Linked DNA regions of Homo sapiens. The protein of the gene in region 2 interacts with the protein of the main gene of each other region in a pairwise test. Each region holds a gene or a part of one and is shown on either strand. Other genes may lie near its edges.

The links.
Region 1: the proteins of NUAK2 (region 2) and GRIPAP1 interact in binary tests that used the Homo sapiens proteins (3 or more experiments, as listed by UniProt).

The regions. Positions count from the first base shown.
Region 1 is NC_000023.11:48,973,195-48,978,270, forward strand, and holds the end of GRIPAP1 (GRIP1-associated protein 1), read right to left. Parts: intron 3,170-5,076; coding exon 3,047-3,169; intron 2,918-3,046; coding exon 2,824-2,917; intron 2,116-2,823; coding exon 1,961-2,115; intron 1,092-1,960; coding exon 999-1,091; 3' UTR 529-998; downstream 1-528. UniProt on the Homo sapiens protein: Regulates the endosomal recycling back to the neuronal plasma membrane, possibly by connecting early and late recycling endosomal domains and promoting segregation of recycling endosomes from early endosomal membranes.
Region 2 is NC_000001.11:205,318,733-205,325,607, reverse strand, and holds the start of NUAK2 (NUAK family SNF1-like kinase 2), read left to right. Parts: upstream 1-3,862; 5' UTR 3,863-3,979; coding exon 3,980-4,210; intron 4,211-6,875. UniProt on the Homo sapiens protein: Stress-activated kinase involved in tolerance to glucose starvation. Induces cell-cell detachment by increasing F-actin conversion to G-actin. Expression is induced by CD95 or TNF-alpha, via NF-kappa-B.

The DNA of each region.
Region 1 (5,076 bases), on a different chromosome or scaffold from region 2:
CCATCCATCCATTCCCCCAACCATTGGTCCATTTACTCCTAACCTGTCCATAAACCCATCCATCCACCTGTCTACCTAAATCATCCACCCATTTGTCCATAGACCTATTATCCATCTGTCCATTTACATCTCTACTATCCATCCTCTATCCACCTACCAATCTATCTACCCATTTATTCATCTAACCACCTATCCATCCATCCATTTATTTCCCAATCTATCCATCATCAGTCCATGCAACCGTTCACTTATACATCCATCGGTCCATCCAACCACTTATCCATCCTCCCATCTGTCTACTCATCTATACCCACAATCCCATACATGTCTACCCATGTACATATCTGCAGGTATTTCAGCTCCACTCAGTTTGAGGGGCTGGTCAGCAGTAAATGGAGACAGGCTGGATGAGGGTGGGGAAAAGAGAGTAACGTTGCAGCCAGAGACCTCTCTCCCTATTCCAATGGTGTAAACCTCCCCGCCCCCAGCATATTCCTCCTGGTTGAAAAGAACGAGACGAGACAGTCAGTGGGTGGGCCCGTCTGGCCAGATGGTATTTTGGCTGCATAGCCTTTACACACACACACACACACGTGTTGCTAGAACGCTGAACATGGACCACACACCCACCCAGCATCCCCAATCCCAAATGCAGAGTAGCCAGGCTCCAGACATAAATTAAAAAATAAAATAAAATAAAATAAAAAGAGTTGGTCTCTGGGAAGGAGAGCTCATGCAGAGATGAAGACAGAAGCCCTTGGGAGCCAGGACCAAGAAGAAGGAGAAATCCCTGCCCCTTCCCTCAGGATCCCCACTCCCTGGTGGCCTCTGCCCTAAGACAGGATCATTAACACTAACCATCAGGCCTCTAGCCCCTTTAATGTCCAGTCTCCCAAGCTATTTGATTTTGGCTCCAGCCCTCATTTTTCCACCACAGCCCAAGGGAATAGCATCCTAGGGGGTAGGAAGGGGAGGAGGTGGGTGCAGCCTGCAGGTCTTTAGCTGGTTTCTCCTGGCTCTAGGTCTGGGTCAGGAGGCCCCACGCACTCCTTGCTGAGCCGCACAATTTCCTGGGACAGAACTTCCATATCCTAAGAAACAAATGAACCATCAGGGGCCAGAGAAGGGGACAGGCTGCTCCCTTGCCAAACGTAGGGTATCATCTGTGATTTCCCTCACACCCTTTCATTAATCAATGCTCAGCTGTGTCTGGCCTGGGATGAGAAGGTACTTGGAGAAGCTCACAGCACCCCCAACAGTGGGCAGGGCTCAGAAAAGTCATGAGGATGGGTGGGGAGCTACAGATAATGGGAGTGGGATGCCTCCTGTGGCATGGTGCTGCTGCAGGATACACCACCACTCTGGCCACCTGCTCTTCTAAGTGTGAGCTTGCTTCTCAAAGGCAGGAGCTGGGTCTGACCCCTTTCTAACTCTCAGAGATGGGGAAAGTCCTTGGGTGGCAGTTTGGGCAGAAAGATGTGTGTGTGGACCCATGGGCATGGGGGATCTATGGTAGACAAATTGGTGGACGAATGAATTGTCCAGAGGACAGATGGAGATCAACAGGTGGGCAGGCAGGTAACTGGGTGGGTGAAAGGTAACACAAGGGGCAATTGATGAGTAGATAAGAGAATGATATGTCAAGAAATGGGTGGCAGGACATGGGGTAGACAATGAGATAAGTAAGTAGTAGATTGGGTAGATGGACAGATGGGCAAATGGTTGGGTGAATGTGTAGATAAATGGATGAGCGGGTACATGGAAGGAATGAATGGATAATAAGTTGATGAGAGGGTGGAAGATGAGAGCATGATGGAGTAGTTGATGAGTGGGTAGGAGGATAGCTGGGAGGACAGGCTGGGTGGGTGGGCAAGGGGACTGGCAGATGACCCAGGGGCTATGTGGCTGGGTAGGCAGGTGGCTGGGTGAACAGATGGGTAGGCTGGCAGGCCACACTTGCCTTGTGCAAGTGCATATTCTTGGTGAGCTGCTCCTCCAGCATGTTCTGCAGCTTCTTGTTCATCTCCCGAAGGTTCTCGTCACCTGGCTTCACTAGGTCTCTCAGGACGCTGCCCAGCCCGCTGCGGTCTGTGTGGCCTGCTGCCACAGACACATCTGCAAGGGCCCAGGCTGAAAACCACCCCCTCGGCAGAGCCAGAGGAGAGCCAGGCAGAGCCAGAGGAGAAAAGAGGGAGACGAATACCAGGGGAGAAGGCAGCAGGAAAAGCCATGTCATGTAGGACAGAGGCTTTGACATACAAAACCTAGCTCTGTCACTCACTAGCTCTATGGCCCCGAGAAATGAGGATAACTAACTTGTGGAACTGGAAAGATGCACATGACTGTATGTGAAGCACAGAGCACACAGAAAGTCCTCAGCACATGTTGGTCAGTATGATTCTGATTAATAAAGAAAAATCTGTGAAGGAGAAAGTTTGAAAGAAAGCAAAAGCAATGAAGATACAGAGAAGGAAAACAATATAGACAGCGAGACAAGATGAAGGAGTGGGGTGAAAAAGAGAAACGGAGAAGAGAGAAGGGAGAGAGAGAGGAGAGGAAGATGAGGCACAGGGAGAGGAAAGGAGAAAGTGGACAGAGAGACACAATGGAGAATGGAGAGTGGAGAGATGACAGAGAAAGAGAGAAGAGGGAGGAGGCGAGATCAAGAGACAGTGCTTTCCTGTTCTCCCCTCCACAGGCCATGGTCTTGTCAGTAGCTTCGCTGAGTTCCGAGAGGAGAGGAGAGAAGCCGCAGCACAGAATGGAGAGGGAGGGCCAGGTGAAGGCTGGACCAGGGCTGAGGGCCGGGGAGGGGACACTGACCGATCCGGCTGTCCATGACGTAGGTCTCAATGATGGCGCTCTTCCGGCAGAGGTCCTCTGCCATGGAAGCACTGCTCACTTCCAGGTGCTTCACCTGCAAGATGGCCCAGCCCACCTGAGACCCCTCTACTGTACATGTTCACACATGAGGCGGGCCCGGGCAGACCCCACACCCACAAGGGCACTTCAAGTGGGGATGGGCAGGCAGGCAGGCAGGCAGCACCTTCTCCTCCAGCATCCATTTCTCCTGCTGTGTCTCTGCCAGCCGCTGAAAGAGCTCAGCCACTTCCTCATCTGACAGCTCTGCTGGCCGAGGGGGCTGGGCTTGAGGGCTGCTGGATAAGGACTGCAGGAAAGAGAAGGGGAGAGGCCAGCCCCGGGCTCAGCACCACCGACCCCAGACAGGTGTCAGGGACTGGGGAGGAGAACCAGGCCAGAGGTGGGTGAGAGAACATGGGCCCTGAAGCTGGGACTGTTGGCCCATCTTGGTACCCTCAGACTCTGTTTTCTCCTCTGCCTAAATGGGGGTAGAGAGTAACCACATCAGAGCCTTGTGGAGAGGATTGAAGGAAGATCCCAAAGCAAATGAGATCTAACTTTCAGCTGACAGGAAAACTGGAAGAGAGGGACATGTTAAATCATACCACCAGGAAGCCAGCAGAAAAACCCAAAAGGTAGCATACTTCCTGTGGGGTGACTGGGCTGGCCTCTTCAACAAATTGGTCTCAGGAAAAAAGGGACCGCACTAAAGAGATTTAAGGGCCATAAAACAACCAGATGTAACATGTGCTCTGAATCTGAATGCTAGTTTTCATAAAACCAGCAAGAAAGGACATTCTGGGGCCAACTAGAGAAATCTGGTTAAGGTCAAAGTATCAGACGACATGAATTTTTTTTTTTTTTTTGAGACAGAATTTCACTCTTGTTGCCCAGGCTGGAGTGCAATGGCAAGATCTTGGCTCACTGCAACCTCCAACTCCCAGGATCAAGCGATTCTCCTGCCTCAGCCTCCCGAGTAGATGGAATTACAGGCACGCGCCACTACGCCCAGCTAATTTTTGTATTTTTAGTAGAGATGGGGTTTCACCATGTTGGCCAGGCTGGTCTTGAACTCCTGACCTCAAGTGATCTGCCCGCCTCGGCCTCCCAAAGTACTGGGATTATAGGCAGGAGCCACCGCACCCAGCCAATGACATGAAAATTGATCAAATTGGGAAGGTAGAGACAACAGTTGAATAAAAAACAGGTTAATCTCATCTAGGTTTTAAAAAGAGAGAGAATTCTGGAAGGGTATGAACTAAGAATTTATTTTATTTATTTATTTTTTGAGATGGAGTTTCACTGTTGCCCAGGCTGGAGTGCAGTGGTGTGATCTCGGCTCATTGCAACCTCCACCTCCCAGGTTCAAGCGATTCTCTTGCCTCAACCTTTCGAGTAGCTGGGACTACAGGCACGCACCACCACGCCCGGCTAATTTTTGTATTTTAGTAGAGATGAGGTTTTGCTATGTTGGCCAGGCCAGTTCTCAAACTCCTAACCTCAAGTGATCTGCCCGCCTCAGCCTCCCAAAGTGCTAGGGTTACAGGCATGAGCCACCGCGCCCAGCCCTGAACTAAGAATTTATAATGGTGACGTCTGGATGGTGAAAATATTATTTTTTTTTGACATTTAAGGTTTTTTTGTTTTTGTTTTTTTTTTAAATAGAGTCGGAGTTTTACCACGTTTCCCAGGCTGGTCTTAAACTCCTGAGCTCAAGTGATCCGCCCACCTTGGCCTCCCAAAGTGTAGGATTATAGGGATGAGCCACCACACCCGGCCAGACATTTAAGGTTTTAAAAAAATCTTTGCTCATTTGTGGTTTTTAAAAAATGTACTACAATGAGCACATACTATTTGTGGAACAATAAAAAAGTTATTTCCAAAGGAAAGTGGCTGGTAAGGAGGCTGACATGACAGCCGGCAATAATAATTAGTGATCATTACAAGTTGGAAAAAGGGACCTTCTCCTTGGATGGTGCACCTACTATGAGCCACATAATTTATGGCACCAGAGAAGGGGGAATTAGCCCACAGATGATTAAACAGAAAGTCAGAGAGAGAGAATGACTGGCCTGTCCTGCATGTCGCAATCTGAATCCAAGTTGGTGGGCTTGGGGAAAAGTTGACAAGAAAATATGTGTGCTGCGCCCAAAGTAGGAGATGGGTTTAGGTGAGGAGAAAAGGGGAGGGGTTCTCAGATTTTTGGGTTGAGAG
Region 2 (6,875 bases):
TAGGCTTCCCAATTTGCCAGCGACTAACAGGATTTGCATCCCTTTCTTGGAGGGGAGGTAGGGAATACTACAGGCTGTAATTCATCCTCAGGGCTCAAGACTCATCTTAGAGGTATCTGAGATCTGCCTTACCTGCTCCCAACCCTCACGTGACCCCCATGGCATGGCCTTGGTGCCTCTCACCTCTGCTCCTACCTGCACCCTGCTCCCACCAGGACACATCACAGCAGTCCACACACTGAGCTGCTTTCAAATCCCCTTTTACCAGTCTGGACCCACCTCCACTCCCCTACAGACACACACACAAATTGTGAAGTGTGTAAGGACAAGGACAGACATTTGTTCCCACTTGTTTTCCCAGCACAGCACATAGTAGATCCAATAAACAGCTTTCCCCCATGACCCCCTCAGACATGGATCAGCCATGGGACTTGGGGCTGGGGGGTAGGCGTCTCCCTTCCAGGAGTCAATAGTGGGGCAGGCAGGATTGAGAGTAGCTTAGCTCAGCCCAGATATCTCAGCACATCCACACATCCGACCACATGACCCAGGAATTCCCCAAGACTGCTGGTGGCAGAGTCCCCGACCAACACGGATTCCCTGTCAGGCACTCTCGCTTTCCCACCAACTAGACCTCCTTTAAGGAATTTGAGATATGAGTTTCAGCAGCTTAGATCATTTCCGAGTCACATGCTGTTCTGGCTCTGTGTCTTCCTTGCCTACCTGCTGTGATCTTTGGTCACCCATGGCTCCTCACCTAGATGGGAATTCAGATTGTAGTCAAAGGAAGCTGGAGCAGGGGTGAGAAGGTCCAAGAAGTTGCAGATGATTCCCTCCCGACCATGGCCAGATAGCTGGTAATGGAGTGGGCCCAATCACATGTAGGTGCTTTTAGTTTCATCTTTGGATTCCATCGCACATCCATTCCTTCAGTTCATAAGCATCTATGGAGCGACTTTTAGGTGCCTCGCAGCACACTGGGTGTTGGGGATACCTGGAAAAAATTACAGGAGTGTAGCTAGATTAAGCCTTAAAAGAAGCGTTAAGCTCATCTGTATAATTCTTTCATCTTATGAAGAAATGTTGATTCAGCTGGCCAATTGCCACTTGTCCTTCAGGTCTCAACTTAAAAAGTCCTGGCTTTAGGAACCTGCGCCTGACCAGCCTCCTCCCACCTGGGATACATATCTTAAAGAAAATCTGAGCCGGGCGCAGTGGTTTACACCTGTAATCCCAACACTTTGAGAGGCCAAGGCGGGCAGATCACCTGAGGTCAGGAGTTCAAGACCAGCCTGACCAACATGGAGAAACTCTGTCTCTACTAAAAATACAAAATTAGCCGGGTGTGGTGGCGCATGCCTGTAATCCCAGCTACTCAGGAGGCTGAGGCAGAAGAATCGCTTGAACCCGGGAGGCGGAGGCTGTGGTGAGCCGAGATCACACCACAGCACTCCAGCCTGGGCAACGAAAGCAAAACTCCGTCTCAAAAAAAAAGAAAAGGCAATCTGTTCTTCTTCCATCATGGACCCTTCTCCCTCTGTACAGGATTTACTTGTTTATTTCTCACTAGACTGAGAACATTCCAAAGGCAGGAATCTTGTCATGATTGTGTCCCCAGGCTCAGCACCTAGTGGGCACCAGTATTTGTAGAATGAAGTAATTAGTAGAAGGCCACAGAACTGGTTAGTGTCAGAGTCAGGACTCGAACTCAGGTCCCCCAACACTCGGCCCTGTGCTTGCTCTTATGTTATCCATACTTCCTTTTGAGAATTCTAATCATCTGGATGAGCCCCCAGGAATAGAAGCAGATTTCAGAGGGGAAAGGAGATAGCAAGTCAAGGCAACTATCTCTGGGCCTCATCCTATTTGCACAGAAAACCCACAGCAAAAGGGGAGGCTGGTGGAGGGAAGAATGCCAAACCAGCTGCCACCTCCTGTGGCCCTCCAAATTTGGGAGCGATACATTGGTTTCCTGTGTAAGATGGATCCTCTCCAGTCACAAAGGAGATAAAGAGCTCCATGGAGGGATGGAGACATCTGTAACTCACACTAGAAAAATAATCAAAGGATCAGTGGAAGTAGAAAAGTGGGCAGCCACTGGGGGTGGGTCCTTCTCCATCCTCAGCATGCCCTGGATACACAGGGGAGGCACCATCCTCCTGAAGGCCTGAGGGGAAGGCTGGCTCTCCAGCATAGCTAGAATCCATCCAGGGCCCTAAACTGGCTGGCAGAAGGGGTTTCCCTCAGGGAAGAGGATCCAGGTCTATTGTCCTCTATTCTCTTCCTCAGGACCAGGGTCTAAATCCCGCCACTTTATTACCAGTTGTGTGGCCTTGGACAGAATAATACTCATTTCACAGGATTAGGTTATCAAGATGGCCAAAGGGGAAATGTTCCCTTTCTGCCATTTAAAGCAAGAAGGAAAACCTATGGCCATTCTCATTTCACTGTAAATGAGCACTCAGAGTGGAGATTCTGGACCTAGCAACTCCAGGCCTCAAAAACTAAGTCAAGCTGGGCGCAGTGGCTCACGCTTGTAATCCCAGTACTTTGGGAGGCCGAGGCGGGCGGATCACGAGGTCAGGAGATCAAGACCATGGTGAAACCCTGTCTCTACTAAAAATACAAAAAATTAGCCGGGCGTGGTGGCGGGCGCCTGTAGTCCCAGCTACTCGGAGAGGCTGAGGCAGGAGAATGGCGTGAACCCGGGAGGCGGAGCTTGCAGTGAGCAGAGATCGCACCACTGCACTCCAGCCTGGGCGACAGAGGGAGACTCCGTCTCAAGTCAAACCTCATAACCTACCACCAGTGCTCCTGGCACCAAAATCACAAGAAAACCTTGGGTGGAGCAACCATTTTCAGACTTAGGGACACAGGTTAGATAGTCGGCATGTAAAAATGTTAAATAAATATGTATCCCTTCGGGTTCTCTCCACCTCCAGCCGACACATCCTAAATAAATTCCACTAAGTGGTTGAGGGAATCTACTAAACCTTAGAAGCCCTCTTTTTTTTTGAAACGGAGCCTCACTTTGTTGCCCAGGCTGGAGTGCAGTGGCGCCATCTTGATTCACTGAAACCTCTGCCTCCTGGGTTCAAGCGATTCTTCTGCCTCAGCCTCCAGAGTAGCTGGGATTACAAGCGCGCACCACCACGCCCGGCTAATTTTGTATCTTTAGTGGAGATGGGATTTCGTCATGTTGGCTAGGTTGGTCTTGAACTCCTGGACCTCAAGCGATTCGCCTAAGAAGCCCTCTTTGAGGAAGAAGGAAGAAGTTTCCAGGGCCATTGGATTCCAATATCCAAGTAAGGTTGATCTAACTGAAGACAAGTGAACTCGAACCATAGGACAGCTCTGCACTAACCCTCCCACTAGGCTGGATTCTGCCTCTGTTCCATCCCAGCTCCCTTTCTCCTTTATGGACTCAATGAAGTGGTCAAGCAATTATAGATTTTGGCTTGGGACAAGCAAATTACTCAGGATGAAGAAATACTTTGGTGACCTTTAGTGCCCTCAGATCGCCCCTTGCCAACTGAGAACAGAGTACAATAAAACAACAGGGCATTAAGCAGGACCAAGCGCCACTCAGAGGCAAGTGCAGCTCCAAGGGCCCTCAGAGTAAGCTTCTGGGCCTCAGGCGGCCTTCGCTGGAATCCCCTAGTCCCCATTCCTGGTGGGCGGGTTCCATTGACACCTTTCCCGGCCACGCCGAGGGGGAGGAGGCGGGGCCTGGAGCCCCGGAGAGCCAATGTGGACGGCCGTGGTCACGCGCCGCCGTCGAGCAGGCCAATGGGCGCCGGGGGGCGTGTCCAGGGCCTCGGGCTCAGGGCGTTTATAACAACTTGGAATGCTGTGCTTTACTGCGCGCTCTGGTACTGCTGTGGCTCCCCGTCCTGGTGCGGGACCTGTGCCCCGCGCTTCAGCCCTCCCCGCACAGCCTACTGATTCCCCTGCCGCCCTTGCTCACCTCCTGCTCGCCATGGAGTCGCTGGTTTTCGCGCGGCGCTCCGGCCCCACTCCCTCGGCCGCAGAGCTAGCCCGGCCGCTGGCGGAAGGGCTGATCAAGTCGCCCAAGCCCCTAATGAAGAAGCAGGCGGTGAAGCGGCACCACCACAAGCACAACCTGCGGCACCGCTACGAGTTCCTGGAGACCCTGGGCAAAGGCACCTACGGGAAGGTGAAGAAGGCGCGGGAGAGCTCGGGGCGCCTGGTGAGTGCGGCTCCCTCTCGCGGCGCGGGGCGGGCTCCGGCTTGGCCGCCGGCAGGGAGCGGAGGAGGGCGGGCGGCGGCTCGCTCGTTGCTCGGCGGAGAGGCCAGCGTGGTCTTTACCGCGCTGAGCTTGCGGGGCTACTGCGGGGTGTCCCTGGCAGATGTGTCAGTCCGTGATTGCAGGGACAGTGGTCGCAAACTTGCGAACCCCAGCCAGCAACACCGTACTGCTGTGATGATTGCCAAATAAAAGGGAGGCTATGGATAGTTGGCGCGGAAAAACGAATCGTGTCGTGTCCTGGGATAAGATGGATGGGACTTAAGTTGAGTTTTGCTGGGAAAAGACTGTTCAATAGAGTGCAATGGAAAGAGGAAGTAGAAGGCACCCCATCTTAATAGGTATTTGGTAAATATGTGTGTGGTTGAATGAATGGATGAGGTGTGGATTTCCCCAACTCCAAGAATCTGGCAACCCAGCACACTGGAGCTCTGGCACGGGGTGGGTTTTGACATTTAGGTCCTTTCCAGCTCTAAAATTTAGTTGAAATTTCATTATGATGAGTTTTTGATTCTGGAAAATGTGAAACCAGGTCCACTGTACCAGAGACACCTTTCGGTTTGGGGGCCTTTTCAAGAACATGCCCTGTTACTTTGGTGCGAGCGTAGGAGTCTAGCAGTCTGTGTGACCTTGGGCAATTTCCTTCATCTCTGTACTTTGTTTCCCCTTTTGCAGAACTGTAGAAAACACAGCCTGCCTCACAAGCTGCTGTGAGGATTGAATAAGATCGAAATATGAACTTATATTGCTCCTAACACATAGAACTTGCGGTGAGATAGCCGGGCGCGGTGGCTCACGCCTGTAATCCCAGCACTGTGGGAGGCCGAGGCGGGCGGATCGTGAGGTCAGGAGATCGAGACCATCCTGGCTAACACAGTGAAACCCCGTCTCTACTAAAAATACAAAAAATTAGCCGGGCGTGGTGGCGGACGCCTGTAGTCCCAGCTACTCGGGAGGCTGAGGCAGGAGAATGGCCTGAACCCAGGAGGCGGAGCTTGCAGTGAGCCGAGATCGTGCCACTGCACTCCAGCCTGGGCAACAGAGCGAGACTCCGTCTCAAAAACAAAACAAAACAAAACAAAACGAAACAAACAAAAAAAGAACTTGCAGTGAGAATTTCTGGAAAGGGCAGCCCAGAAAGGATGGCAAATTTGTCAAAAGTTAGTTAGCAGTGGTTAACTGGTTCTCAAACTTGAGTTTAAAGTACGTAAGGATCACCTGGGATGTTTGTTTAAAATACTTACATTCTCTGGTTCCACACCCAGAGTAATTTATTCTGAAGGTCTAGGATAGGGCCATATAATGTATATTTTAACAAGCCTTTTAGAGCAGGTGGTTTAGGCATTATTATGTTTTGCCAAATCCAGTTGGGTGCTGGTTGTGAGGGGGTGTGTGTGTGTGTGTGTGTGTGTGTGTATGGTTTGCCCTATTGGCTACATCAGCAGTTACTTCCCCAGATTGTGTTTGCTTTTGCAGCCAGTAGCTGGTTTGAAATTCAAGAAGTCATTTCATTGGTGAAGGAGAGTGGATGTTGGAGAAAGGGGTAGATTATGGCCCCATCAATAGGACCGAGTATGTTTTTCCTGCTATCGCCTGGCACAGTCCCCAGTTGCCTGCTGCCAGGTTACAGCTATTGGGCAATCATGTACTTCCTGGCTTGCCTTTTCTTTCTCTTTCTGCAAAGTGTGAGGGCCCGGTGAGGCTCCAGGCTTGAGGCTGTTGGACCCAGGCTTTGTCAGGGGCTTAGCTGGAAAATAGCTGCTGGTGGCTTGTGCTTCGTGCCTCTTGGGGGTGGAGACACTGGGTCGTGGGGACTGGGGTGGCCCAGAGACTGAGAAACTGAGATTGAAGTTCAGAGTTCCCATCAGGCTCTTGACCCAGGTCACTGTGGGGTGTGTGTGTGGATGTGCATGAGAGAGAGAGAGTAAGAGAGAGATCTCATTTGATTCCAGAATGAGATAAACTAGCTTTCAGTTTTCAAACTTAAGTGGATTTAGGCAGGGATTCCAGCTCTTATTACATCAGAAGATACTCCCTGGCCTCATGCCTCTTGCTCTATGTAGGAAGCCAAGATCAGTAGGCATGGGACCTGCTGTGAACCTCCCTGATCCATAGACCACCCAGTTCTGCAGCTGGGAACTTGCTCAGGGTCTCCTTCCTTCTTGGAGAGCAGCTGCCTGCTGTGCTAATGGTTTCTCAATTCTGGAGCATTGCCTCTTCCCCACCCCACCCCACCCCTGCCTCTTGACTGTCCTTCGTGAATCGAGAGAGACCTAGTGCCTCAGGATACTTCAGTGCGGGAGAGGGGTGTGGGAGCTTGCCCAAGACCTCCCCTAGAATGAATTGAGATTGTTGGTGGGAGCTAGATTCAGAGGAAAGCCAGCTGGGTGACTTCCATCCCAATTTTCTCTCCACCTTTCTAGCACACTTCCCGCTCCCAACCTGCCTAGATGGGATTATCAGGGCCAGATGGGATTGGCTGAGGGAAGGGCAGGTGGGCGGAACTAATGGCTGCTCTAGGAGGACATCAAAGGAAAAACAAATATTTGCTCTGGCTCTTCAATACATTCCTGGTATCCAAATGACATTTCCTCCTGGGACTCACCCA